Regions from separate parts of the Homo sapiens genome. Here region 1 is linked to region 2. Evidence: fine-mapped expression QTL. Tissue or cell type: whole blood. Region 2 holds a variant in brackets; the other region holds the start of a gene. All regions are shown on one strand. Distances are between the middles of the regions.

Region 1 (2,627 bases), 310 kb before region 2:
ACTCCAACTGCACTTTCAACCCACCCCACCCAATAACTGCTCTACTCCTTGGGCTCTGGTTCTTGGTTTGGCACATAGGCCTTAGCAATTTCAGCATAACAGTAGCTTTTGGCCTGGTCCATGCTTACTCAGTGTTCAGAGCAGCACAAAGTGCTGGCCTCTAGAAGACAGGATAGAGACCGCTGGTGAAGCTTGTCAAATCAGAACCCAGGCAGTAAGTCCTGTGTTTAAAACAGGGAATGTGAGGGCATTCCCACCTCAGATGCACAGGTGTTTAAAACAAGGCCTGGAAAGAGCCTGTTGGTAGGAGGGGGAAGAACAGGAGGGCTGCTACAGGGGGCTTCTCCCACTGTGCCCTAGTGGGCTGTGACAGGTGCAGGCTTCTCCACAAGCAACAGTCTACGGCAGCGCTTCTCAGCTATGGCCGGGCATCAGAATCTACCTGGGGACCTTCTGGGCAATAGCTGGGTTCAAATCCAGCTCTGCCAAGTACTATCTTTGTGACCTCAAGCTATTTACTTTGTCTGTCTGAACGTGAGTTATCTGCAGGATGGAAATATCATCTACCTCCCAGGGCTGCTGGGAGGGTTAGACAAAATGATGCAACTATAGCCTGCAGCACAGAGCTGAGGACATGGTGTGCACTCAGCAACCTTCAGCAGCACAGAGCCGAGGACATGGTGGGCACTCAGCAACCTTCAGCTGTGGCTGCAGAAGGTGAAGCCAGCTCCCGAGAACGTGGCCTGATCCTGCAGCTTTTCAGTACAGGACAATCTCACACCCCTCCCTTGGGGCTGTTCTCCTGTGCAGACACTGCAGTTTGTCCCTGTACCTTTTCAAGTGGGTCCACAGAGGGGCATGGATGTTGGGCGGGTGAGGGGCTCACCTTTCATCCTCTAGCCAAGCCTCTGGAGCCGCGTCAGTCCCACTGGCCAGCTGTGCTCCTGCAGTCTTGTTGATCTCTGTCACACCCACACTGCCCAGGCTGGAGGGCTCCTTTCTCCTCAGGAAGTCATTCACTTTGGCCCCCATGGCTTTGCCCAGGTTCTTGAGGTGCTGGCTGCTGCCCACCCAGAGTCCTGGCCCCCCAGGCTCACCAGAGCCCAGAGGGGCAGAGCCGGGGGCCACGGGCTTGGACAAGTGGGGGAAGGAGCGGCTGGCCTGGAGCTTTGGAGTGAGGGCTGTGTTCAAATTCTCAAACATGCCGTGGTCAACTATGAACAAAGAGGCGACAGAGAGGCATGATGAGGAAAGGGGAGCGGTACCTGTGCTCTATCATTCAGTTTTTCCTTATCCCACACCCAAAACCTGTAACTTCCAAGGCTTTGGAAATATTCAAGAAAGAGCCAGCAAAGACACTCTTGAACTTTCCAGTGTAGTTTTCTTGATGGGACAGGAACTAGAAATTCTAGCTCTGCCCCACCCAAGTTAATCAGTGACTAATGCTAGCCATAAAAAAATAAAGTTGTTCCTGTAAACCTGCCTCCTTGACTCATGGGCTTGGCCCCTTTACCTTGGAGTCACCACGCCCTTTGGAGTAAAGAAAAAATGAGGATGAAGCAATGAAACATGACATTTTTACATCACCGTAAGCACGTGCTGAGCTCTCAGTGGGTTGGAAGCTGGTGGAGGGATGGCATGGATGAGGCTTGGTGTTAGAAGCTCCCCACTGAAGGCCATGAGTATAGCACATATTCTCCACAAAAAATGGGGCAGCAGCTCCTCAGGTCTACAGAGGTGGGCCTTGAGCGAGTGGGCCAGCTCTTGCAGAGGTGCTAAGTGGTGGTTCAGAATCAGTTCGTACCAAATGGATAGGAACTCGGTGCCAGTGAAGCACGAGGATCCCAATGAACATCAGCTTACTTAATCCTTACAACCACCTAGGGAGGTGGTACATGGAAGGATATCTACCTACAGATGAAGCCTGCAGGACTCCGCGTAATGCAGTGCCGTGCCTGAGGTCACACAGCTAAATACTAGCAGGGCTGGAGCTAGAACTCAGGCCTTCTAACCCACAGCTCAGGGCTCTGTCCACAACTTTGCCCTGCTATAGATCATGGAACAGCTGCCTATATATGCCTGGTACATGGTCCTTCTTGTAGGGATCCTCTTTGGCTTGAAAAATTAACTCAAAGAGCTGGGTATAAACCCATTAGGTTGTAAAGATTTGCAAGGCAGAGAGCATGCCTCATTCATCTTTGTATTTTCAACACCTAGCCTGGGTTTGGTACCTAGCTGTGCTCAATACAGATCTTGAATCGCCAAAACCCATTTTGTAGATAGAAAATTGTGGTGGCCAAGGTGGTAGCTTAAAGGTTTGTTATTGAAATGACTGGAGCTCCAGGCTCTAAGCCATGCTGTCCACACACTCACACTTGGCCATCCTCTCCCTATCTGGAAATCCAGCTCAGTCATCAGGCAGCCAGACCCACTCTGAGGCCTTGGAATCTGGGTCAAGGTTTCTGTCTACACCAACTACCCCAGATATGTTGTCAGTCTGAGGAAAGGAGATCGCTCGATCATTTGATGACTAGGCTCCTTTCCTTGTGAACACCTCTGCTAAGTGTCTATTTTCACTGAGCCTCTTCTAAGAGTAACTGGGGTTAGGGTGTACTTTTTCTTCTGCT
Region 2 (2,761 bases):
CAAAATGCTGGGATTACAGCAGTGAGCCACCGCGCCCAGCCTAGTGTTTCTTTTTAATGTGATGAAAATGTTCTAAAATTGACTGTGGTGCTGGTAGTACAGATCTGTAATATCTTAAAAATCACTAAATTATACATTTTAAATTAGTGAATTGTATGGTATGTGAACTACATCTCAATAAAACTATTAGAAAGGAGGGAACTCAATAGTAAAAAGCCAATCCAACTTTTAAATGAGCAAAGGATCAGAATAGACATTCTCCAAAGAAAATATATAAATGGTCTTTTCCAAAAACAGAAAGGAAGAAGAAAAGTAGCAAAGATCAAGTTTGCAGGGTAGGGCAAAAAGGCAGGAAGGAACGGCCATGGGCATGGTCCCAGGCTGCTGGGGAGGGTAGACAGCAGGACAAGGGCAGCAAAAAGGTCACTGAGGAGCTAAGAGCATCCTCAAGGCAACAAAGGTATAAAGGGAAGGCAGGTAATTATAGCCAGCGAAAGCATTCTGAAAGTTTGAGTCTTGGGAGTAGCTGCATTATGAGTAGGCAATAGTAAACAGTGAGTCAAGCCTGATTAGTATAGATAACTGGCAAAGGTCATCATTAGATGTGGCTGCATGATTTTGACCACTAAAAAGGACTGGGACATTGTGGGCAAAGGAACTACGACTGAAAGCCATAAAATCATGAAATGTACAGCTAACGTGGAAATAGATTTGTCCATCAAATCCCAAGATACCAGGTGTGGAGGAACATACTGGGACATCTGAGAGCAATGTAAGGACAAATAAAATAGGTGTCATTTCAGAGCAGTACTGTATCTTTGGAACTCACTGCCCCCCACCAAAAAAAAAAGTAGTCTGGGCAGAAGATAAGTGTTTTTAAAAGCATCTGGAAAAGCATAAGAAAGTGAACTACGTCTCCTCCTTAATGATGACATCAGAAAATACATCAGACCCTTAATCTGAATTGCTACTGTTCCAGAACCCTGGAAGACAGGACCCTTAGTCTGGGTGGAGAGAAGGGAGAAAGGGGACATAAACACCCAGTGTATAGTGGAATGGTTCTGAGAGCTCTGTACCATGCCATGCAGGCTCAGACGAGTCAGGGATACCCCATTTACGGTGACCAAATGTCATTCATCTGGAGGCCTTCATGGCCGTATGTTTAAGAGGCATCCACAGATATCCTGCTGAGGTTACTGGAATCTCTAAAATCCACATCAGGGAAACCATCAACCAATGAAGCCAGGTAGCAAGGAAGGAAATATAGCCAGAGAATTCAGCTTCAATCTGACCACATGCTCCCAAGCCACAAAATCACTCAGCAATGATATTTACTGCTTTCAGACTTTCCACAATTGGTCATTTCTTCCACTTGACAATTTTTCATTGTGACTATGTTTGTACCTGATGTTGAGGCTTGGGAGGGGGAGATACACCAAGGCATGAGGCAAGGTCCTCAAAGAACATTCCATATCACCAGAGAAGATATATGCAGAGAGGAAAAAACAGAATTTTGTGTGGTAAACAGCTTCAGCAATATCTCTCATCCCACGTGCAATCTTGCAATGTGAACTTGACATTCCCCCATCAAGAAGTAGGGCTTATGTCTCTTCCCTAATAGCCTGTTTTGACCAACAGGATGTGGCAGAAGTGACC[C/T]TATGTAACTCAGAAAGACCCAACCTTAAGAGCTTCTGCTTTCCTGCTTGGAACACCCCCTACTGAAAACCAGCTGCCAAACAAAAGGGCCACCATGCTGTGAGGAAATCCAAGCCAGCCAGTGAAGAGAATAGTCACATGAAGGACGACCAAGGCACAGTCATATGAGTGAAGCCTTCTTGAACATTCCAGCCTAGCTGTGGATGAATGCAGCAAAGTGAGTGATCCAGTCAACGCCATAAGCAACAGAAGAACAGCCCAGCCAAGCCCTGCCTGAATTCCTGAGCCATGATTCATAAGCAAATTAAACAGTTATTGTTTCAAGCTACTGAGTCTTGAGGTCGTTTGTTTTGAAGTGATGGATAACTGAAACCAGTTTGAAGCCAGGGAACCAGGGATAAGTCCTGGTTCTGTTATTATCTGACTATGTGACCTTGGGTCCATGACTTCCCCTCCAAACTTCAATTTCCTCATCTGTACAATGATGGGGTGAGGGGGTTGTACTAGATGAGCCATGGTGCTTTCCAGTTCTGACCATCTGTATCATACACGCAGATATAAGGGAACAATCTAGGCAATGAGTGTTAGGACTACAAAGGGAGCAACTATTAATACTTCAGGTTTGAGTGAGCCTTGGAGGAGGTGAAAGAACCATGGACCTGGAGTCAAAAGCCCTGGAGTGTGAGGATTAAGTGAGGCAGAGGCTAGAATAATGTATGGCACATAGTAAGTGCTCAATAAATATCATTAACTGATACACCAATTTGCAACTCTGGACAAATTAATCTCTCTGATCTCCATTTTTTGGTCTGAAAAATCGAGATAACACTAATGTGCCTGTGCCTGTCTCTATAAGAGGAAAAGTCTTTGTATGTAGAAGTCCAATGCAAATCAAAAATCACCTACAGATATAAGATATAACTATTATTAATACTCTTATTATCCTTTGTACCCATAGCATTAAAAGTCTCTTTCTCACCAAGAGAGGAGAGACAGTCAGTTGATGGCACTGGCCACCAGGAAGACATACTGGGAGATCAGGAGGCAGTTACTAAGGAGCCACAGGCTCTCAGGGCATGTGAGATTTACCCACCCACCAGCATCA

What was found. PIP is the estimated chance that this variant, and not a neighbour inherited with it, causes the effect.
Region 1: it holds the start of C1orf226, and the variant in region 2 is fine-mapped to the expression of C1orf226 in whole blood (TOPMed, PIP above 0.99).

Annotation. Positions count from the first base shown.
Region 1 is chr1:162,380,478-162,383,104 of GRCh38, reverse strand. C1orf226 (chromosome 1 open reading frame 226) reads right to left here and starts at 1,377. Exons shown (of 2, transcript NM_001085375.2): 1 at 887-1,377. The coding sequence starts at 1,203. RefSeq lists a silencer at 432-726.
Region 2 is chr1:162,073,864-162,076,624 of GRCh38, reverse strand. All of the region lies in intron 1 of NOS1AP (nitric oxide synthase 1 adaptor protein), which reads right to left. Among named protein-coding and RNA genes, the nearest start is that of NOS1AP, 5.6 kb to the right of the region's middle. The variant C/T (reference allele first, on the strand shown) is at 1,657.